5 separate regions of the Homo sapiens genome follow, and all the other regions are linked to region 2. Evidence: fine-mapped expression QTL. A gene starts in region 2. Each other region holds a variant in brackets. All regions are shown on one strand. Distances are between the middles of the regions.

Region 1 (4,502 bases), 29 kb after region 2:
AGTATAGAATATGACCTTTTGTCACATAGCAATAGGGAAATGAAAAAAGAAAATCGACTTATGTTCTTTAATGGCTAGGAAAATATTCTTAAAAAGAGATCTCAAGCACAGGTGAATCTAACAAATGACAAATTTATTTCTTTACATAGATAAATATAAGGTTAGATCCACGTAAATAAATGAAGCCATTAAGGGTAGAGTCCCACAGACCACAGCGTCCAGCTCTGCTATCGATATCAGGGAGTAATTTCCAGGCACACAGAACTGACCCAGCATCCAGCTCTGCTCATGATTTCAGGGGTAATTCCCAGGCACGGGTCGAGCTGGAGAAGCTGGGGGCCCCCATAGCCCCACTGTCCTTCCTGCCTCATGGGGTCTCTGAGGGGTGCCTGGAACATTTCCTCTTGGGCTTTGAAGATCATTTCACTTAAACACATTTTCCAGGTGCCATGGACCTGAGCCCAGAAACTTCACGGTACCAGGACCACCCGAGACAGTGGCTCCCCAGGAGTGAGCACCAGGCACTGTCAGGGGTTCTCTCCCCAGCACATTTACAAGGACATGATGGGTTCTTCTTCCTGCAGAGCAATCCCAGTGGGAAGAAGGAGGGGACGGGAGGCCTGGCAAACTCTCCTCCCCAGCTCCGTTCCAAGCTCTGTGGGGCTCCGGCAGGCCCCATGTCATGTGCAGATGAGGGATTAGGGTTCCTCCCGGCCTCGCTGCTCTCAGGCCCTCAAGGGCTCCTCTCACCACCCCCGTGCAGCCAGCGGACCCTGCCCCCACCCAGCTGCTCCCCCCAGCTGCTCCCACTCAGCTGCTCCCACTCAGCTGCTCCCACTCAGCTGCTCCCACTCAGCTGCTCCCACCCAGCTGCTCCCACCCAGCTGCTCCCCCCAGCTGCTCACCCCCAACTGCTCCCCCCCAGCTGCTCCCCCCCAGCTGCTCCCCCAGCTGCTCCCCCCTAGCTGCTCCCCCCCAGCTGCTCCCCCGCAGCTGCTCCCCCCAGCTGCTCCCCCAGCTGCTCCCACTCAGCTGTTCTCACCCAGCTGCTCTCACCCAGCTGTTCCCCCCAGCTGCTCCCCCTCAGCTACTCCCACCCAGCTGCTCCCCACTAGCTGCTCCCCCCAGCTACTCCCACCCAGCTGCTCCCCACTAGCTGCTCCTCCCCAGCTGCTCCCCCCCAGCCGCTCCCCCCAGCTGCTCCCCCCAGCTGCTCCCCCCCAGCTGTTCTCACCCAGCTGCTCCCCCCCAGCTGCTCCCCCCCAGCTGCTCCCCCCCAGCTGCTCTCACCCAGCTGCTCCCCCCCAACTGCTCCCCCCAGCTGTTCTCACCCAGTTGCTCCCCACAAGCTGTTCCCCCCAGCTGCTCCCCCCAGCTGTTCCCCCTCCGCTGCTCCCCCCCAGCTGTTCCCCCCCAGCTGTTCTCAGGTTTCTCATCCTTCCTGGATGACGCCCTACCTGGGGCACCCGTTCCTGTGGCATCCCCAGTCCTGCACTGCAGCACTCAAACCCCGTCACCTCCCTGGCGAGACCATGCTGGAACCGTGATCAGCCCATCGGTTTCATCCATTATCCTCCTAGCCCAATTTCTGTGCTGATCTCTCGTTCCCAAAACATCTTGGAATTATAAGAAATTAACTTTTTTCAAGTCTCTGTGCTTCTGAAGCTGTACTTTTAAGAAATAATTCTTACGTTCTTTTGAAGGTTTTTTTTTTTTCTTTAAGACAGAGTCTCACTTTGTCGCCCAGGCTGGAGTCCAGTGGTGCAATCTCAGCTCACTGCAAGCTCCACCTCCCGGGTTCACGCCATTCTCCTGCCTCAGCCCCCCGAGTAGCTGGGACTACAGGCACACGCCGCCATGCCTGGCTAATTTTTTGTATTTTTAGTAGAGATGGGGTTTCACCATATTAGCCAGGATGGTCTCGATCTCCTCACCTGGTGATCCGCCCGCCTTGGCCTCCCAAAGTGCTGGGATTACAGGCGCCAGCCACCGCGCCCAGCTGGTATTTTTTTTTTTATTTTTTTATCAAATACAGTTGAGGCTCTCTTGGAGATCACATATTAAAGAGAACTGAGAAAAATCAGACCTCAGAAGCAGTACAGTGCCCTGTAAAGTACATGTCCAGTCCCATCACTGTCCTTCTCTCACATGGGCCCAGGGATGTGGGTGATGGTATTTATTGCCCCTGGTGATGGAGCAGATTTGATCTGCCTATGTGGGAAGGGGTTAACTCAGCGGGTGTGGATTGCTCAAACCCTGCACGTTCCCAGGAGGGGCCCTTGGCTGGCTCC[T/C]GGGAGCTGAGCTCCTGCAGTGTTCTGACTGATGAGAGAGACTTGAGCCATGTTGCACTACTTTGCCTGGGTAGTTGACCAACAAGGTGATGGATGGCAAACACCTGCTTTCGCTGTGGGTGGCTGGAACTTCCCTGACTGACCCCCAGGTTCAGGAGAGCCTCCCTGGTCCGCACCACGGCACTAGCTGTCCCAGCTTCTTGCTGGAGGAATCCGGCGCACCCTGTGTGACTCCGCTGGGAGGGACTCTGGAAGCGCCTGGCTTCCCTGGCAGCCCTTTCCCTTGGCTGGTTTACTCTGTACCCTTTCAAGTTGGAGGGTGGTCTCAGGGACCCCCATGCAGTCTTTCGTGCTTTCACCAGAAACTCACCTTGGCAGGGCTTCAGGGGAAGGCTTGGGATTTGGTGACAAGTGACTCCATGGCCTTGGGCAAAGCACAGCATCTACTTAGGTTTTCAGGCGGTTGCCCAGGTATGTCTAGCACCTAATGTAACCGAGGCGTGAAATGCCTGTGCGCCACGGTGCTTCAGCTCGTTACGGGCCGTTAGGCCTTGTGGTGGTTCTCTCTTGGTTTCTGTGGAGAAGCCAGACCCCGCTGTGGTTGGCAAGGAAGGCGAGTGGAGACATCAGGAGTGTCCATCCCTCAGCGGCCCTTTCTAGTGGGGTGGCTGCCTCTCTCATCCTTGATTAATCCCGGGACAACCTCTGCTCTCCTGGGCAATCCTTAGAATACTCCAGAAGACCCCAGTATGGCCGTCCGGTTCCTCCTGGGCCCCAGCTCTCAGGAATGCACCATCACGGCACACTCCATGCGTGCCCGTCCAGATGGCACCTGAGCCTCCCTGTGCCTGCGCTGCGGCGTTAACATCTCGCTTGTGTTTTAACCTGTGTTGCTTTGGTTTAAAACTTGTTTGACCGTGTTATTTGCTGAGATGGCCCAGAGAAGCTTCTGCTTATGATCAGGACACGTCACAGTGCAGCCTTCACTTGAGGACTTAGGTCTCATCCAGCTCCACACAGTCAATCCAGGGCCACGGACGCAGAAGACAGAGGAGAAGAAGCTCATGGCATGAAGACAGAGGATTGATTGCCCAGGAGGCTTCCAGGGGCTTTGGCTCCTGGGGCTTCTGTCAGCGCTGGGTCAGAGCAGGTCACCCTTGTGTGCAGACACTAGGTTGCCGCACACAGCGGTGAAGAACGGGGGAGACCAGATGGAATTGGGTGAGGCAGGGATGCTCCTTGGTGTTTAGAGTTTTCCTCTTTCTTTGCCTTGTGGGTTTTCTGTAGCCTATCTTTGCTTTTTGTAACACTAGTTTTCAGTAATTCCGACCTTTCTGAATACCTCTATATACATATACCTGTCTACTCTCCTTTCAGATACTTGTAAAGCCTACAGAAAGGTAATCCTGCAGATTATCACTCTATTCAGCTTAACAGATGCTCGTCGAGTGCTGCTGTGTGTGTATGCCTCAGGTTCAGGTGCACCTGCCTTTGTGGGGAGAGCACAGCTTCCCTGCATAACTGCTGGAGGGTGGGTCGTCGAGTGCTGCTGTGTGTGTGGGCCTCAGGTTCAGGTGCACCTGCCTTTGTGGGGAGAGCACAGCTTCCCTGCATAACTGCTGGAGGGTGGGTCGTGGAGTGCTGCTCTGTGTGTATGCCTCGGGTTCAGGTGCACCTGCCTTTGTGGGAAGAGCACAGCTTCTCTGCATAACTGCTGGAGGGTGGGTCGTCCAGTGCTGCTGTGTGTGTATGCCTCAGGTTCAGGTGCACCTGCCTTTGTGGGAAGAGCACAGCTTCCCTGCATAACTGCTGGAGGGCGGGTCATCGAGTGCTGCTGTGTGTGTATGCCTCGGGTTCAGGTGCACCTGCCTTTGTGGGAAGAGCACAGCTTCCCTGCATAACTGCTGGAGGGCGGATCATTGAGTGCTGCTCTGTGTGTGTGTGTGTGTGTGTGTGTGTGTGTGTGTGTGCCTTGGGTTCAGGTGCACCTGCCTTTGTGGGAATAGCACAGCTTCCCTGCATAACTGCTGGAGGGCGGGTCGTGGAGTGCTGCTGTGTGTGTGTGTGTGTGTGTATGCCTCGGGTTCAGGTGCACCTGCCTTTGTGGTAAGAGCACAGCTTCCCTGCATAACTGCTGGAGGGCGGGTCATCGAGTGCTGCTGTGTGTGTGGGCCTCAGGTTCAGGTGCACCTGCCTTTGTGGGAAGGGCAC
Region 2 (4,502 bases):
ATACTTTGTCAATGAAAAGGCTGAACCTCTGTGAAATACTTGAAGAGATTTATTCTGAGCCAAATAGAGTGGCCACGCCCATGACACAGACCTCAGGAGGTGGCTGGGGTGCAACTTGGTTTTATGCATTTTAGAGGGTCGTGAGACATCAATCAAATCTATTCAAGATATACATTGGTTCAGTCCAGAAAGGCAGGACAACTCAAAGTGGGGGCTTCTGGGTTATAGGTAGATTTAAAAATGTTCTGATTGGCAATTAGTTGAGAGTTATTACCAATAGAAAGGAATGTCTGGGTTATAAGAGGTTGTGGAGACCAAAGTTTTATCAGCAGAAGAAGCCTTGGGGTAGCAGGCTTCAGAGAGAATAGATGGTGTTTCTCATTAGACTTAAGGTCTGTGTTGGCTTTCCCTGAATTCCAAAAGGGAGGAGGGCATAGTCAGCCATGTCCCACCCGCCCCCACTTCATGTCGTGGCCTGAACGGTTTTCAGGTTAATTTGGAGTGCCCTGGCCCAGAGAAGGGGTCCATTCAGATGGGGTGGGGCCTTAGAATTTTACTTTTGGTTTACAACTTTATGAAGAGACCATTAGAAACCACTTGAATTCACATCATGAAAAAAAATCCACACTGTAAAAAAGGTTTGTAGATTAACACATTAGGTGAATGCCAAAGCCACAGAATATCTAAATTTCTCTGAGGAATTTGAAAACTCTCAGGTATATGCCTTGTGGACAAGAGAGACAGAAAAATGGGACAGAGGATGAGATAGTTTGGAGAATGGATAGCTGATCAGATCTGTAGCTGTGCCCAGAGTGCTGAATAATGGATTTGCGTCCACAGGGAAGAAAGTCTCAGGTGCCACTGATAAAAGACCACGTCCTTGGCTCTGGGTCCATTCAACATCTTGGTAGACAACTGAGTGAAAATTCAGAGACAACCCTAGGAAGTATGAGGATGAAAAAAGTTAGCATTCATGGAATGAGGCACTGAAGAAACTGAAAAGCTGAAATAACCCCATGAAATAATGAGAATAATTGTAGTATTCTGAACCGGGGCACAGGACACAGGACCGGGGTGGAAGGCGGCACGAGACTACGCGCGTGGGAAAGACCCAGGGATCACAGTGGCCCAAAGCTGGGCACTTCCCAATTCCGGGATTTGTGCTACAGGCACTCCAGGCTCCACCTTAGAACTGTGTCCAGCACGAAGGCAGTGCTGTCTTGCGGGAGGCAGGGCTGCACCACCACCGGGGTGTGAAGGGGCCCAGCAGGCAGGGGTGTGAAGGGGCCCAGCAGTGTTTCCAGCTGCACGGGGTCAGGGGCCGCGCTGATGCAGAGCACGGGGGCGCAGGTTAAACCTAAAGGAGGGAAGCTTTTGGGGGCGGAACAGACAACCGAGAATGCTGCACACTGCCTTTCCCACCCGAATTGTGTTTTGACTTTTTTTTTTTTTTTTTTTTGAGACAGAGTTTTGCACTTGTTGCCCAGGCCTGGAGTGCAATGGCCCGATCTCGGATCACTGCAACCTCCTCCTCCCGGTTTCAAGCAATTCTCCTGCCTCAGCCTCCCGAGTAGCTGGGATTACAGGTGTGCACCATCACGCCCGGTTAGTTTTGTATTTTTAGTAGATACGGGGTGTCTCCCAATTGGCCAAGGCTGGTCTCGAACTCCCGACTTCAGGTAATCCACTGGCCTTGGCCTCCCAAAGTGCTGGGATTACAGGCGTGAGCCACCGCGCCCGGCCTGCTTTTGCTTTCTTTTTTTTTTTTTTTTTTTTGGCAGAGTCTCGCTGTCCACCCCTGTAGTGCAGTGAGCTCGGCTCCCTGCGGCCTTGACCTCCCGGGCTCAGGCAATCCTCCCGCCTCAGCCCACGGAGTAGATGGGACCACAGGAGCCCACCACGCCCGACTACTTTTTGTAATTTTTGTAGGGATGGGGTCTATCCATGCTGCCCAGGCTGGTCCGAACTGCTGGGCTCAAGAGCTCCGCCCGCCTCCGCCTCCCAAAGGGCAGGGATCACAGGTGTGAGCTACCGCGCCCCGCCCAGAGTTTCCGACTGTTAGCAAATCACATTCACCTCAAAACTATTTATACAAGAACTGAAAGGCAAACTAAGTCCGTGCTCCATCACTTCCTGTCCCAGGTCGCGGGGCCGGACATTTTCTCCAAGCGCTTTCCTGGCACAGCGCGCAGGCGGCCTGCGCCAAAGCTCTGGCTTCCTCCAGGCGCCCAGACCCCGCCCTCCCCGCAGGCGCCAGGGCGTTGCCTGGCAACTTAGCTGCGAGGGGATTGGCTGCGCGGGACCCCGTGACCATCCCGGAGACCACGCATTTCCTGCGCCCCCGGAAGTGGTGATAATGCCAGGCCCTGCCCCCGGCAGAGGCGGAAGCGGAGTCGGCCTGAGAGGTCTCTCGTCGCTGCAGGCGCCTCAGCCCAGCCGCGTGCCTTGGCCCATGGCCGCCTACTCTTACCGCCCCGGCCCTGGGGCCGGCCCTGGGCCTGCTGCAGGCGCGGCGCTGCCGGACCAGAGCTTCCTGTGGAACGTTTTCCAGAGGTGCGGCCTGGCACCGCCCGGGCACCTCCCGCCTCCGCCGCGGCGGCCCCGACCCCTGTCCCGACTCCCCCGACCAACCCCGTTCCCTGCCGGTTCTACTGCGGCCTCCTCCGTCCCCTGTCGGGTCCCCCGCGGCCCCCTCCCGTCCCCTGCCGCCGCCCCCGACCCCTGCCCCAGCCGACGCGGCCGCCCCCGTCCCCTGGCGGGTCCCCCGCGGTCTCCCCCGTCCGCTGCCCGGTCTCCTGGGGCCGCCCCTGCCTCCTGCCCGGTCCCTGTCCTGTGCGTCGGGCCCTTCCCAAGATGCAGAGTGCGCCACTGCAGACCCGAGGTCGCGGCCACCGGCTCCTGGGCTAGGCCCTTTTTCTCGCCTCAAGAGCCGCCAGGTGGAGGGTCTCCAGGGTGCTTGTTTGGGGAAAGCGGAAACAGACTGCCTGGGCGCTGTTAAAATGTCAGCAGCCAAGGAAGAAGCAGCGACCTGGCGTCTGCTCGGGCCAGGTGACCTTTATGGCGGCGCCTTCTGTCCCTGGTCGCTTTTCCACCGAATGTCCGAAACTGTAGTGACTGATGGCCAGGGAATGGCTTAGTTATCTGAGGGAATCTTGTCTTGTCTGTGAAAAAGGGAAACGGGTGCAAATGGGAATTCAGACAGGCCAGGAGAGGAAGGAAGGGAAGGATTGAGGTGAAGATGATTGTCCTCTTAGGGGAAGACCACACTGGACGTCGGCTCCTGGGGCACTTCCTTGATTCCGCTGTACTCCTCAGCGGGACGGGAGAGGCGGAGGTTCCAGGAGGGAGCCTTCCAGAGTCGGTGCAGGGTTGACAGAAGACGTTTGTTTTGCTTTTCCTGAACTTTCGATCGCCAGCTTATTTGGTCTTCTTGATGTTATAGGGTCGATAAAGACAGGAGTGGAGTGATATCAGACACCGAGCTTCAGCAAGCTCTCTCCAACGGTGAGTGGGCCAGTGGGAACTGGGTCTCCGGACCAAGAAGCCGCGAGCCTGCCCTGTTCACAGTGGATAACTTTCTGAAGTTGTTTTTCCAAGGACAAAGGAATCATTAGGACAAATTGTTATTACTGCTTCGTAGTGGAGATGCTTCTGGTTTATTTTGTGGCTACCGCTGTTACTGCTTGGAGTGCCTCACCGAGCCAGCTAACAACTGCGTGCGTGAGCACAGGGAAAGGCTTCTTGAGAAATGAAAACTAGATTGTAGGTTTAGGAGGGGAATAGGAAGCTTAGCTCTGTACAGCCGAAAGCCTTTTGGTAAGTTGGAGGTCCTTGAATTTCCTGGGTGACTGCATCTTGGTGACTTCTCTGAATAGACCTTCGAGGGCACTGGGGGGTGATTGTTGGAGGGCTTGGGGAGCTCAGGCAGCCCTTGTATGGGAATGTGGCTGTTACAGGAACTGCAGAAACTGGGACTGGGTTCCTGGGGAAAGGATTGGGGGTGTTGGAGGCGCTGGCCAGGGGATTATGGGGAGGTGTTCTTATCAGTGTGCGAATACTGGGCGTTCAGGCAGCGGGAAATCCGGGTCCTTGCGTGTTGTGAGCTCCCTGGAATTACGTTCTTGCCAGTTTCAGCTCAGTTGATCCCCCTCCCCTCCGCTATCATTGGACACATTTTACTTCATTGAAACCTGACTGCCACTTTTTCTGTAATCCCTCAGGGGCAGTCATCTTTTCTGATTCTGTGTATAGTTTGCTTTTCCAGATCCGTGCCATTTAAGCTAGAAAAGGGGTCAGTTTTGAGATGTTGTGAAAATGTTGAAAGGCTTCTTGTTATTAGTGGGAAGTATCTGAAGTTGCCAGAGACTGAACTGGGGCGCGGGGAGCACTACGGCTGCTAGACACTGCCTCACTGCGCTGTGGGTGGGGGGGTGCTGGATTCAGCCTTACTGCCTAATGATTTGTGAGGATTTGTGTTTTCAGAGTAACATTTTTACCTTATA
Region 3 (4,502 bases), 48 kb after region 2:
CCTGCCCAGCCACACTGCCAGCACAGACCCCATCCTCAGGCGCCTGCAGGGAGGCCACCCACGCCTTCCTGGGTGAGGGAAGCCCCTGAGCTAAACCTCACTGCACTCTGAGGCCCCAAGGGCCAGGCAGCTGCACACAGCCTGGGCCACGTGGGGGCAGTGCGGCTGCACCACGGAGCTCTCGGGAGCTGCTGACTGACCGGGAGGACCTGCCCGACACAGCCATGGGATTTATAGCCGCAGAGAGAAGACTACAGAGAGACGGGCCTTCGCCCTTTCAGCTCTCCCTTGTCAGGCAGGCTGTGCCCTGTGACCCTTCAGAGCCTGGGTTTGGGGGTGGAGGGGGTGGACAGCTGACCAGGTGCCTGGCGCAGGCCCAGTGTGGTGAGGCTGGGTCGCGGAGGCCAGGCCAGGCCAGCGGCCACGACCACCCACCAGGGACCCTCAGCGTCACGACCCCGGTCCCAAGACCCAAGACAGCAGGACATGGGGGCACAGCCATCTCTGGGGGCCTCTCCTTCCCCCCGCTCTGGGTCCTCAGTCATCAGTGCAGACATGGAGGTGCAGGTGCACGCCGTACACCCTCACCTGGGGCCCCTGGCCCATGCCTCCCCACCCTCCCTACCCTGATCTCCCCCCACAACCCTACACCTCCCCGGACAACCCTGCACCTCCCCCAACAGCCACCCTGCACCTCCCCGCCACAACCCTGCACCTCCCCCAACAACCCTTCAACTCCCCTCTCACCTTGCACCTGCCCCTCACCCTGCACCTCCCCCCATCCTGTACCTCCCCCCTTCACCCTCCACCTACTCCCAACCCTGCATCTCCCCCCAACCCTGCACCTCCCCACATCCTTCACCTCCCTCCTCACCTGGCACCTCCCCCCATCCTTTCCCTCCCCCAATCCTTCACCTCCCCCCTCCCTTCATCTCCCCCCTCACCCTCCACCTCCCCCCCGCACCCTGCACCTCCCACCCTTACCCTGCACCTCTCCCCATCTTTTACCTCCCTCCCACCCTGCATCTCCCCCCAACCCTGCACCTCCCCCCATCCTTTATTTCCCCCCACCCTGCATCTCCCCCCAACCCTGCACCTCCCCCCATCCTTTACCTCCCCCCACCCTGCATCTCCCCCCAACCCTGCACCTCCCCCAATCCTTCACCTCCCCCCTCACCCTCCACCTCCCCCCCTCACCCTGCGGCAAGCAGAGAGCTGACTCCAGCACAGTGAACTTGGAATGATGGAATGCACCCTGGAAGCAGCTCTGACGGGCGCCACCGTGACTGTGCCCAGCAGGGAGCTCCCTTGTGGTTTTTAACAAAAGACAAAATTCCCCAGGTCCTTCTCTGTGCTACAGGAGAAACTGGTGTGGGAGAGGGAACCCAGGCGTGACCAGGGAGAAACTGGTGTGGGAGAGAGAGGGAACCCAGGCGTGACCAGGGCTGCCCAAGCGGCTCCCTGTGAGGCATCAACGCTGGAGACACAGCAGTCATGGGGAACCCGGGGAACCCGGGAAACCCAGCCGCCATCAGAGAGCCAGAGAGCCGCAGGCGCCTGTGCGGGGTCCTGGCCTGGCCCGAGGGGTCAGCACACCCCTGTCTGCCTCTGAGGTCAGGGCCCTGGGGGCTCCTGACCTGGCCTGCCTGTGGGAGGCAAAGGTGTGGCCAGGAGAGGACAGGAGGGGGCAGTCACAGTCACCACTCCTGGAGGCCCATGAAGAGCAGCTTTGCCCCCACACTTCTGTGAAGCCAACTTGGGCCTGTTTGGGAGGGGCCTGGCGCTGCAGCCGGCCGTGGGCACCTGCCATGTGGCGGTCCACTGGAGGCCAAGTCCAGCTCATATGGCTCTGGGGACCCACCGCACCAGACTCCAGTGTGGGG[G/A]TACCCGGAGCTGGGGGTGGGTCCTCGGAGGCTTCCAGTCCTGCCCCAGCTGCCATCCCTGCCAGGTGTTAGCGCCTCTGGTTCAGAGTCCCGAGAGGACCAGTGGCCCAGGAGAAAGGGGTGTGTCTCCAGCTGCTGGGAGTGTGGGTGGGAGCCAGAGGGTTCAATGACACTGGGGACAGCAAGTCCGGACTGGAGGGAGGAGACCTCCTGAACAGGGTCCCCAGCACAGAGGCAGAAAGGAGACTCTGTGACTGGGGGTGTCAGCTGCATCTGGACCTTCGTGGTGGGGAGGGAGGCACGCCCAATAGCCCGTCTGAACGGGAGGTGGCTCAGGGATCCCCCATTGTGCTGGTGGGGTGCCCAGAGACTCCAGGACTCCACGTGGGGCTCTGCCTGCTAAACCCTGAGACTTTAGGGGCAGTGGCTCCCACGGCAGGGTCATCCTTTTTCTGCACAGTCCCACTGGCTGCCCCAGGTCCTGCAGAGACCTGAGACTTTGGGGACAAGCACAGGGGACAGGTGGGCGTGGATGGCCTGTGCCGGTCAAGGGCAGTGGGAAGGAAGGAGGAGCAGTTTCCTTCTGTACCCAGGAAATAGAGTAACAAAGTGTCTCATTCCAGTTGGTTCTGGTGGGACAGGGTAGGTGGAAGGGAACCCGTGCTTGCCCTGAGACATGGGGGTGCTGTCTTCCCATGCAGGGGGACTGCGGCTCACCACCATCACATTCTACCCACAGGTTCTTATTTTAACAGATCACAAAGGTACTATGTGCTTCTTGCAAAAATTTACAGGAATTGTAGACTTTTCAAAAAGTAAAAAGAAATTAAAGTTCACCTGTTACCTCAGAGTTATCCAGCTACACATTTTCTGTGCATAATTCACTTTACAAAAATTGGATCAAGATAAAACTAATGATTTTTAAAAATACAGCAATATAGTTGCACATTGTTCCATATCAAAAAATAAATGTGTGCACCCAGGGCTCCTGGCTGTCTCAGTGGCATAGTGGCTCATGCCTGTAATCCCAACACTTTGGCAAGCCGAGGTGGGTGGATCACCTGAGGTCAGGAGTTCGAGACCAGCCTGGCCAAGATGGCAAAACCACTATCTACTTAAAAAAAAAAAAAAATTAGCCAGGTGTGGTGGCGCGCGACTGTAATCCCAGCTACTTGGGAGGCTGAGGCACGAGAATCGCTTGAGCCCTGGAGGCAGAGGCTGCAGTGAACTGAGATCGCACCACTGCTCTCAGGCCTGGGTGACAAAGCAAGACTCTGTCCCAAAAAAGCCCATTTACTCAGCTCACATTTTTGAGCCTCTGCTATTCGACAGGAACCAGAGGTGAGCAGAGCCGACTTGGTGACCCCTGGGGACAGAGCGGCAGAACTCAGCAATTCTGGGCTGCCCTGCAGGAGCTACACCCGGGGAGGGGCGGTGGCCACTTGGGGGCAGGGTGGGCTTCTCAGCTGCGCCCACCCCACCTTGGGAGCTGTGTCTGGAAAAGAGACTTTTCCTGAGCCGACAGCAGACAGCGAGTGCAAAGGCCCCAAGGCCCGCACGCCTTATTCAGAGAACAGCAGGAGGCGCGGGGCGGGTTGGGGGCGTCAGGGAGACGGGGTTTGACTGAGAACCTGGGGGCGCCAGTGACAGCCTCGGCCGCGTTGCTGAAAACCGACCTTGCGGGATGAAGAGGGCGCGGTTCCCCCGGCTGGGATGAGGACCGCGGATGCTGAGGAGCGGACTCCAGGGACCACCGACTCCATGGCCGGCCCCAGCGAGGGCGAGAACGGGTGGAAGCCGGCCAGGGTCTGTGGAGACGTCAGGGTGCGAGGCCAGGCTGAGGTGTCCCCAGGGATCCCCTGAGGGTACAGGGAATTCAGCCAGGGCCTGCGCGCCCGGACGGAGGACTAGAGGGGGCCAAGGACCACCGGGAGGGGGAAGGAGAAGGCGCAGCCCGAGGTCGGAGGGGCCGGCGGGCGCGCAGAGGGCGCGGGGTGAGCCCTAAGGACCTGCAGGCAGGACCCTGCTCTCGGCCGCGCGGTCCCGGGTGCCGACCGGCGGGGTGGGCGGGGCAGGGGCACCCAGGGCCGCACACCTGCCGCGTGGGACCCTGAAATGCCCAGGACGAAGAACGTCGCACGGACGACCCTGCCGTGCCTGGCGCGCGTCCGCTTCCTGGGAAGCTCAGGATCCAAAAGCATCTTAATATTCTCTATAATTCGCCAAAAACCATGACTCCTTTTACATTTTCGAAACGACCTCATGGGGCAGGCGAGGGGGCACACGCTCTCCTCACTTTACCTGTTCGGGTCTACACCGCCCGGCTCTAGGGCCGGCAGCTCAGCACAGCCGGCCGCGAGCGCTGGGGAGGGGACGGGGGCGCAGGGAGAACCGGGGGACCCTGGGCGCACACAGACCCCAGGGGGAACGCAGGGCCTGGAGGGGCTCAGCGCGCGACCCCCGCCTCGGGGCACGGAGACTCCGGGGGATCACTGGGACGCGAAGGGCGCAGGGCGGACCCCAGGGGAACCGGATGGCGTCTCCGGTTCGCCAGGGCAGCTGGGGCAGCCGGACCCGAGACAGCCGGACCCGCGGGCGCCCTCTGCCGCCTCCCGGCCC
Region 4 (4,502 bases), 36 kb after region 2:
CGGTGCACGTCGTGGAACGGTTGTGTGAAAAACAGCCACTGGTTGCACACAGGGTTGTGGACTGTTGGGAAGAAACATCGATGCTGTTTCTCACATGATTTTTCATCCTGTGGATTTTCATTTAATTGTAACATATTTCTGATCAAACCAGGAGTAGTCTTATTGCAGTCCTGTATTAACCTCTGTTCTTGAAAAGAGACCACGTGATTTATCATTTTCTCTGCAGCAGTAATTCACACTGAATTTTTCTATGTTTTTTAGCCATATTGCAACTACATATAAAGGTAGTTATAGATTCTTTTGTATTTGGACCTGGAGTTAGACTGAAAGCAAATAGGACATAGGCGAGGGTCTGTTTCTAATTAAAGCAGGTTTTCCTGACAGGGCTGTTCCAAGACTCCACCAGTGCTGTGGGCCCTGGAGAGTCAGAGGGTCAGCTCTGGGAATTAGATTCGCGTTCTAGGCCGAGACCCAGGAGCCAGGGGAGCTGGGGCCACTTACCTTCCCCGTGCCTCGGAAGCTGAGTGTGAAGCTCTGCTCTTCTTTCTGTCGTGGCTGCGGCTGGATTTCCTCACACATCCCATTGCACGGCCTGCCTCACAGCTGCAAGTGCACCTTCTCCTGGGACTTAGGGGGTCAGGGCTGGGGGACAATCCCCCACACCCCCACCCAGGGCGAAGGTGACAAGACTTTAAGGGATTTCACCCCATTCACAGACAGGCATGCATTGCCCAGTCCCTGGTTAGTGGTCAGCAGTGGGGCCCCGCCAGGCTCTGAGGGCTGAGGTCTGGTGGGAAGCCTCAAGTGAGTTTGCTGCAACTGATCTTTTGCTGCTTGACCGTTCCTCTCTGTCTCAGCCATGTTTGACCGTGAGAACAAGGCCGGCGTGAACTTCAGCGAGTTCACGGGTGTGTGGAAGTACATCACGGACTGGCAGAACGTCTTCCGCACGTACGACCGGGACAACTCCGGGATGATCGATAAGAACGAGCTGAAGCAGGCCCTCTCAGGTTTCGGTAACTCACTCACTCTGGCTTGTGTAGCGTGTTTCATTTTGGAACCTTGGAGCCGTTGAAGTTCTTTAAACCTTGTTGGACTTAACTGATTGTCTAACCAGGCTACGTAAAGTTTTTGTTGACGTCATGCAGGTTCATATTTGATATTGCTCATGTCGGAAGGCGATCCTCGACATGGATACGTTTATTCAGGTTTTTATCCAAAATGAGATAAGGGCTATGCAAGCCGTTCATCTTTTCTGAAGTGGAATGATGTCGTGAGCAAAACTGAGAATGTGGCTTTTGAAATCATTTAAAAGTGGATCCATGAAAATACCGTGGGGCAGGGCAGCTTATATTTCATGATAGATCAAAGCACGTTGAAAAGGCAACAGTCACCTAAGAAACAGCTGTCAGTCACCAGGTCCAAACCGTGCGCCTCAGAAGGGGCGTTAGGCAGAACGCGTGCCCATTCTCAGGTGTGCTCGGCGTGTGTGTGCTCGGCGTGTGTGTGCTCGGCGTGTGTGTGCACACGTGTGCCGTGCGCCTCAGAAGGGGCGTTAGGCAGAACGCGTGCCCATTCTCAGGTGTGCTCGGCGTGTGTGTGCTCGGCGTGTGTGTGCACACGTGTGCCGTGCGCCTCAGAAGGGGCGTTAGGCAGAACGCGTGCCCATTCTCAGGTGCGCTCAGCGTGTGTGTGCTTGACGCGTGTGCACACACACATGTGACGGTGTGCCGTGGGTCTAGGAGTGTTCACAGTGCCTGTCCAGAGTGCGTCCATAGGGC[C/T]TGTCCACGGGGCTTCCCGTGCTGCTCTCAGGGCTGAGAGGAAGCAGGGGTTTTATTTACAGAGGAACAACGGGCATGTTTGGGGCCAGCCTGAGGCTGTTGGTGGCTGCACCGAGATTCTAATCCATGCGGATCTCATCTGGCCCCTGTTGTGAAGCCGCTTCCGTGATTTGCTTAAAAGGCTCCTTAGAAACAGTGAGGAAAATTCGATTCTACTTGAGTACCTCCGAGATCCCTGGAGTCTCACTTATCTAAGCACGTCGCCTCTCCTCGTGTTTCCTCCCAGCATGCACTTTGTGGCTGCCTTTCTTTCTCTTTTCTTTCTCACCTTACGAGCTTGTCCACAGGGCCGGGGGTGGACACTGGGTCTCCTCAAGAAGCAGTTCTGAGCTGACCAGCTGCGAGCCAGGATTTGGGCTGGATGGCTCTGAATTGGTACTTGGAATGCAGCTGACCTTGCTGTGCCCTTGGGTGGGGGAACTGGAGGGAACGCTGGCCGGCTCCTCTTCCCTGGGGCAGGTACGGAAGGGCTGGGAGGGAAGGATGCCACCCTCCACAGAGAGTGGTCCTGGGGGCCAGGGAGGCCAGTGCTGCCGATTGCGGCCAGGGCCACGTGGACTTCAGGACCGGCCTGAAGTTATTTTTAGATAAGCGACCTCTGGCGCCACGGACATCTTTTCCTAACCTTGTCAGGCCCTGGAGCTCCCTTTGTCCATGCCAGTGACCATCGGTCCTCAGAATGTGCAGTGGAAGTTGCTGTGGACAGTGCTCCCTGGTCTCTGAGGCCCTCTTCGTCCTGGTCTGGCCAAGGACTTCCCAGAAAACTGTGCTTAGCTGTGGCGGGAGGCACGGCCGGTCACGCAGCCTTCCTCCCGCCCTGGAGTGGGCAGGCCTGCTTGTGTTGTGCAGCGGCAGAACCCTTCCTGACTTCCAGGTTTTTCCTGGGGTGCGGCATCCCATCGCAGCATTTTCTCTGGTTACCCTCACGAGTTTCCTCCTGCGTTTGGTTCTTGATCTCCAGGGCCATCTCCCACGTCTTCCTTGGAAAGGGGCATTGTCATCCTTTTTGTATTTTGATGATTTTGAAAGATTTCCCATAGTAACTGTTAGGAAGTTGGCCTCAGAAGCAAAAATTCTTCTTTTGTCTTGGCCCCTGTGAACAAGTGTTCTGCTCTCAGATGAAGCAGGGAGGCTGCACTGGAGCTTGGTGGCCAGCAGGAGGGAATCACCAGGGTGGTGAAGCCTGCGAGATTTCTCCCCGGGTGTCTCTGATGGGGCCACATGGTGGATTTCATAATCCACCGATTCGTTTTTTTAAGCCTTTATTGTTAACATCAACTGTGTGCCATGCTCAGAGACCTGAAGTGAAAAGGTGAGGAAGGCGTGCTCACATTCCAGCACTCACCACCCGGCACCGGGACAGCTGACTCAGCACGTGCCGTTTAGGTTGCTGTAAACAGCCGGTGAGATTCTCCCCTCTGGTGGGCAGTGCGTGTCTGACAAAGGCAGTCGGGCGGAGAACAGTTCCTCCGCTGTGGTCCTTTGCCACTGTACCAGGCCCCCAAGAGCTGGGGGGAGCCCCAGGGAGCCTCAGCCTGTTGAGTGGGGGCAGCTGGTTTGTCCTCCGAGGTGGAAGAGGTGATTTCTGAGGAGGTCATGCTCCGCTTGGCTCGTTCACAGCATTTCAGAGAGTCCGAAAGAGGAGAAAGACCTTGGCAAGGGGTGTGTCAGGGGTGGGCCCAGGGACGCTGGTGGCCTCATGTGGACTGACTTTCATGAACAGAAACTCAGAAACAGTTGCTTCTGGATTTTGGCTTCTCAGATAAACATTCTTTTTGTAGTTCGTTTGTTCATCCCTCATTTTGCTGTCTGACTTTGCCTTTCTTTTCCCTTCACTATTACTGATGACCAAGGAAACTGGAAGTTAATTCCAGAGGCAGTGGGGTTGCTCCTGTTGTCTGTGCAGACTGGAGTTCCTCTGCCTCTGTCAGCATCTCCTCTGTCCTTCCCCAGCCTTGGCAGGAGACCAGTAATGACCTCTGTCCCCGTGCACCCCAGTGATGGCCGCCGTCCCCGTGCACCCCAGTGATGGCCGCCGTCCCCGTGCACACCAGTGAGGGCCGCCGTCCCCGTGCACACCAGTGAGGGCCGCCGTCCCCGTGCACCCCAGTGAGGGCCGCCGTCCCCGTGCACCCCAGTGATGGCCGCCGTCCCCGTGCACCCCAGTGATGGCCGCCGTCCCCGTGCACCCCAGTGATGGCCGCCGTCCCCGTGCACCCCAGTGATGGCCGCCGTCCCCGTGCACCCCAGTGATGGCCGCCGTCCCCGTGCACCCCAGTGATGGCCGCCGTCCCCGTGCACCCCAGTGATGGCCGCCGTCCCCGTGCACCCCAGTGATGGCCGCCGTCCCCGTGCACCCCAGTGATGGCCGCCGTCCCCGTGCACACCAGTGATGGCCGCCGTGCCCGTGCACCCCAGTGATGGCCGCCGTCCCCGTGCACACCAGTGATGGCCTCTGTCCCCCATGCACTCCCAGACAGGCAATGTCCCTGTGGGCCTGTCCCAGGCTCTGTTCTCAGCAGGCTGGGCTCAGCCCTGGTGCAGGGAGTGAGGAGGTGGGAGTAGTAGGGACCAGAAAAAGTGGCAGCTGTTGACAACTCTGCCATCTCTTTCTGAATGTAATGGGAGGTCCTGTCTTTTCAGCTTGCAAGGAAGGAGGGT
Region 5 (4,502 bases), 42 kb after region 2:
GTATGTTCTGGTGTTGTGGTTTTTTTTGTTTTTTGTTTTGTTTTGTTTTGTTTTGAGACCGAGTCTCGCTCTGTCACCCAGACGGGAGTGCAGTGGCACGATCCCGGCTCACTCCCACCTCTGCGTCCCGGGTTTAAGCAATTCTCCTGCCTCAGCCTCCCCAGTAGCTGGGATTACAGGTGACACCCAGCTAATTTTTGTATTTTTAGTAGAGACGGGATTTTGCCATGTTGGCCAGGCTGATCTCAAACTCCTGACCTCAAGTAATCCGCCCACCTTAGCCTCCCAAAGTGCTAGGATTACAGACATGAGCCACCATGCCTGGCCAACTATGGTGTATTTTTACAAAAACTTTTATTCTGAGAAAATGGGCACGTTTTCTGTTGTGGTCATCACTGTGTCCTGCCGTCTGTGTGTGAGGTCAGCTGTGGAGCCTGTGGTCGCTCAGGCCGCCCTCAGTGGGGTCTCCGAGCTCTTCCCGTGCACTCCAGTGTCTGCAGGAGCTGGTAATGCACCCTGACCTGCAAGGCAAGCTCCTTGGTGGTGTCTCTCCTGCTGGGCTCTCTTTGAGACCCACGGGAGATGGAGAGCAGGGCTCAGGGGACCCGCCTGGGAGCTCCACACAGACCTCTGCTGCTGTTTGCAGGTGGTGATCCAGGTCTCTACCCAGGTTCCTCAAGGTCCTGTCTTGTTGGCCTTGGAATTCAGTGAGAGATAGGAACAGCATGGGGTTTTTAGAAATAATGTGGAAATTTGGAAAACGTTCCCAAATTGTTTATTCTGTATAATAATTAAGATGCTAGATCTGTAAAAGTGAGTTTCCTCTGATTTGGCATGGATGCATCAGTCCCTGTTCTTCAGGGATTTGTTGGAGAACCAGGTCTGTGAACATGGAAGCTTCAAAACTCTACGGTTGGGGACCCTTTCCTGCCCCTGCCTCTCGGGGTTCCTGCCAGGTTGGATGACATTTTTACAATGTTCTCTGAACACTTTCAAAAAAGTGTAGGCTGGGCCTGGTGTCGCATGCCTGTAGTCCCAGCTACTCAGGAGGCTGAGGCAGGAGAATCACTTGAACCCGGGAGGTGGAGGTTTCAGTGAGCCGAGATCACACCACTGCACTCCAGCCTGGGTGACAGAGCCAGACCCTGTCTTAAAAAAGAAAGAAAAGAAAAAGGGAAAAGATGCCGTGTAAAATCTCGTTCTGTGTCTGAATTGCCGTAGGGCTCAGATCTTCATTTGAGGTTCTGTGTCTGAATTGCCGTAGGGCTCAGATCTTCATTTGAGGTTATGTTCTATAAGTTAACGTTGATCTTGTGTGAGCTTTCGGTAGCTGGAGTAACACAGGCGGCCTCACAGCGACCTCTCCAGCGCCTTCCAAGGCACATCTGCAGCCAGCGTAGCTCCTCCTGGGAGATGCCTCCTCAAGGCCCTGCTCCAGACCACGTGGGGAGGGCCTGACAGCCAATTCCCAGGCTGTCCCCACCCTTGGAGAGTGACCCTAAACGCTAGACAGATGGGGAATGGGAAAGAAAAGAAAGCTGCAGACCTCAAGTTAAAATTCCCTCAAAAACGTTTTTATTTATCTGCTTTTTCTGAAAGGATAAAGGCTTTTTGAAAATTATTTTCTAACAAATAACATGAACACTTCTAGAAACCCTAGAAAAACACAAAGTATTCAAAATAGAAAGAAAAATTACCCATTACTCTTTAAGCCAGCATTATCCATTGCGGTGCTTTTGGAGTTGGGTGAGGCCGTAGCCTCTGCCAAGTCAAGGAGCCCGGTGGTGGCTGTGGCATTCCTGCAGGGTTGTTTTTTTTTCTTTGAGATGGAGTCTCACTCTTGTCACCCCAGCTGGAATGTGGTGGTGTAAACAGCTCACTGCAGCCTTGACCCTGAGGCTCAAGCGATCCTTCTGCCTTGGCCTCCTGAGTAGCTGGGATCCCAGGCGAGAGTCACCACACCCTGTCCATGTTCCTGCAGGTCTTGATGTGCGAGGACGCTGTGTCTTCCCTGCCACATTTTCTTCTTCTTTCTTGAGACAGACCCTTGCTCCATCACCCAGGCCAGAGTGTGGTGGTGCGAACACGGCTCACTGCAGCCTCGACCCTCAGGCTCAAGCGATCCTCACGCCTCGGACCCCCAAAGTGCTGGGATCACAGGCGAGAGTCACCATGCTGGCCTGAATCTTCAGGGTATTTTACGGTTGAAGTGTCACTTACTTAACCATCCCTGTTTCAGGAGTGTAGGTGGTCACCCTGTCTCTGCCGCTGACCTGGCCTGGACCCTCGGCTGTGAGAGGGAGGGGTGGGCTGGGCTGGAGGAACCTGAAGCCCTCGTGATGTCACAAGCCCATCTGGCTGGGCATCCCCTG[C/CTGTGTCCTGA]GCTGCACATGCCCCAGGTGGCCCCCACAGCAGAGGCGAGCCACTGGAGGGTGGAGGGCTTCCACGGGACGGTCTTCAGGGGGAGAAGGAAGGGCCCAGGCCCCCAGGAGACTCAGGAGACCAGAGCCTGGGGTCAGGGGCTCAGCCAGGGGCTCAGCCAGGGCTGGATGTCCGGAGCCAGCCCCGCAGCCCTGTGTTCTTCGTTCTTCGCACTCCCACCGTCCGTGTGAACAGCTCCAGCCCCACCTGCGCCTCCCTGTGCTGGGCTCCATCAGGGAGCCCAGAAGACGTGTGTGCTTCTGAAATTGGGTCCCTACATGCCTTTGTCCCAGTGCACCTTGCTCCTTCCATTTACTATCGAGATTTAAATGCCTGTTTTCTCCCCAGAGGTTGACGGATATATTCAGACGTTACGACACGGATCAGGACGGCTGGATTCAGGTGTCGTACGAACAGTACCTGTCCATGGTCTTCAGTATCGTATGACCCTGGCCTCTCGTGAAGAGCAGCACAACATGGAAAGAGCCAAAATGTCACAGTTCCTATCTGTGAGGGAATGGAGCACAGGTGCAGTTAGATGCTGTTCTTCCTTTAGATTTTGTCACGTGGGGACCCAGCTGTACATATGTGGATAAGCTGATTAATGGTTTTGCAACTGTAATAGTAGCTGTATCGTTCTAATGCAGACATTGGATTTGGTGACTGTCTCATTGTGCCATGAGGTAAATGTAATGTTTCAGGCATTCTGCTTGCAAAAAAATCTATCATGTGCTTTTCTAGATGTCTCTGGTTCTATAGTGCAAATGCTTTTATTAGCCAATAGGAATTTTAAAATAACATGGAACTTACACAAAAGGCTTTTCATGTGCCTTACTTTTTTAAAAAGGAGTTTATTGTATTCATTGGAATATGTGACGTAAGCAATAAAGGGAATGTTAGACGTGTGGTCTGCCTTCAGCTTTTCAAATCAAATAGGTCCAAGAACCAGGCCCCGTGCCCTGGTCCTCCAGACAGTCAGTGTCAGATGTTCTGGCTTGCCTGGGACCTCCCAGGGTACCGGGCACCTTCTGGAACATTGTCCAGCCCAGCGTGCACAGCTCTGCTTGTGAAAATCCAGAGGGACTGTCTCACCCTCTGTTCAGGAGGTTAAATTTCATAAGACTGCTCCTTTTGGATGAAGAAATCCAATTTGGTATAGCAGGTTGTGCATTTCCATCATTAATGATTTAGCCATGCTGTGCCCTGCAGTCTCTGCACGTGGCCTGCAGCGTTTGTCCACCCAGCGCATCCTGCTCACCTCGGTCCACTGCCAGCGCTGCCCGGTCCGCCTCCCTGCCTCACTGTGCAGCGCCGGCCCTCCTGGGTTGACACTCCCGAGGCCCAGCCTCATTCTCCAGACGCTTCCCTTCCACAGTGATGCGTCTGGTTTTGGGGCTGCAGCCTCTGGTCTCAGAAAGCCTGCTCCTTCCACCCAGTTGTGCACGACTTTTCTCTGTTCGTTTTGGTCTCTTGGGATCTGTTCAAACCTCTGCTCGGTGTGTTGAGGGGTGAGGGGCAGGGAGCATGGTTTCCTGGAAAAAGCCCCCAGTCTCTTAAGCTGGGCAGGTGTGCTGTGGGGGGTGGGGACTGGGGCTGCTTCTGTGCTCCAGATGAGACCTCCCCCACTGCCCAACTGCACTTGGCCTGGGGCCCTCTGGATACGAATCCCTCTGGAGCAGGCACTCCAGGCTCCCTGGGGATGGGAGGGGGAGGGATGTGGGCTTGGGGGTCTGGCTGCTCCCTCATGACCTCAGTCATGGGGATCCCAGGGCAGTCTCTGAGGATCCCCAGCAATCCACGCCGGGTGCCTCCCTAGACCTTGACACCCCCATGACTCTGCAGCAGATGACCCCAAGTTCTACTCCATGAGGTCAACTTCCTTGTCCAGGCCGCAAGCTCCCAATTCCATGAGGCCTTCCTCACCCAGGCCTCCACGGCCAGGCGCCCAGCGACTTCTCCCTCGCCTCATGGGCACCTGGACTCAGTGTCCAGTAGCTGCACCCACCCCACCCTGGGAGCTGCCCTCACTCCTCCTTCAGCCTTAGGCCTGTGAGGTCTCTGTGCTTGGGGTGAGGGCAGCTGCTGCGGCCA

Direction of the effects. Alleles are on the strand shown, and positions count from the first base shown. SD is a standard deviation of normalised expression in the study named. Not every link is listed here.
In carriers of allele G in region 3, the expression in subcutaneous fat of the gene that starts at base 2,378 in region 2 tends to be higher than with A alone (small effect, 0.32 SD a copy in GTEx).
For the expression in tibial nerve of the gene that starts at base 2,378 in region 2, allele CTGTGTCCTGA in region 5 goes with a lower level than allele C (small effect, 0.31 SD a copy in GTEx).

The links.
Region 1: its variant is fine-mapped to the expression of PDCD6 in whole blood (TOPMed, PIP above 0.99).
Region 3: its variant is fine-mapped to the expression of PDCD6 in subcutaneous fat (GTEx, PIP above 0.99). The same link has a PIP of 0.9 or more in lung and monocytes.
Region 4: its variant is fine-mapped to the expression of PDCD6 in whole blood (TOPMed, PIP 0.98).
Region 5: its variant is fine-mapped to the expression of PDCD6 in tibial nerve (GTEx, PIP above 0.99). The same link has a PIP of 0.9 or more in atrial appendage, breast, coronary artery, esophagus mucosa, pancreas and sigmoid colon.

The regions. Positions count from the first base shown.
Region 1 is chr5:297,848-302,349 of GRCh38, forward strand. The region is part of intron 2 of PDCD6 (programmed cell death 6); the gene reads left to right. All of the region lies in intron 2 of PDCD6-AHRR (PDCD6-AHRR readthrough (NMD candidate)), which reads left to right. Among named protein-coding and RNA genes, the nearest start is that of AHRR, 22 kb to the right of the region's middle. RefSeq lists enhancers at 3,399-3,904, 3,905-4,410. The variant T/C (reference allele first, on the strand shown) is at 2,292.
Region 2 is chr5:269,269-273,770 of GRCh38, forward strand. PDCD6 (programmed cell death 6) reads left to right here and starts at 2,378. Exons shown (of 6, transcript NM_013232.4): 1 at 2,378-2,553; 2 at 3,443-3,504. The coding sequence starts at 2,453. PDCD6-DT (PDCD6 divergent transcript) reads right to left here and starts at 2,256. Exons shown (of 2, transcript NR_104613.1): 1 at 2,077-2,256; 2 at 288-939. It overlaps PDCD6-AHRR (PDCD6-AHRR readthrough (NMD candidate)), which reads left to right and starts at 2,378. Exons shown (of 13, transcript NR_165163.2): 1 at 2,378-2,553; 2 at 3,443-3,504. RefSeq lists enhancers at 727-1,419, 2,081-2,170 and a silencer at 2,461-2,670.
Region 3 is chr5:317,153-321,654 of GRCh38, forward strand. All of the region lies in intron 3 of PDCD6-AHRR (PDCD6-AHRR readthrough (NMD candidate)), which reads left to right. Among named protein-coding and RNA genes, the nearest start is that of AHRR, 2.3 kb to the right of the region's middle. RefSeq lists an enhancer at 1,365-1,664 and silencers at 3,774-4,033, 4,184-4,502. The variant G/A (reference allele first, on the strand shown) is at 1,884.
Region 4 is chr5:305,745-310,246 of GRCh38, forward strand. PDCD6 (programmed cell death 6) reads left to right here. Exons shown (of 6, transcript NM_013232.4): 4 at 858-1,016. All of the region lies in intron 3 of PDCD6-AHRR (PDCD6-AHRR readthrough (NMD candidate)), which reads left to right. Among named protein-coding and RNA genes, the nearest start is that of AHRR, 14 kb to the right of the region's middle. RefSeq lists an enhancer at 1,049-1,933. The variant C/T (reference allele first, on the strand shown) is at 1,782.
Region 5 is chr5:311,658-316,159 of GRCh38, forward strand. It overlaps PDCD6 (programmed cell death 6), which reads left to right. Exons shown (of 6, transcript NM_013232.4): 6 at 2,760-3,317. The coding sequence ends at 2,858. The region is part of intron 3 of PDCD6-AHRR (PDCD6-AHRR readthrough (NMD candidate)); the gene reads left to right. Among named protein-coding and RNA genes, the nearest start is that of AHRR, 7.8 kb to the right of the region's middle. The variant C/CTGTGTCCTGA (reference allele first, on the strand shown) is at 2,373.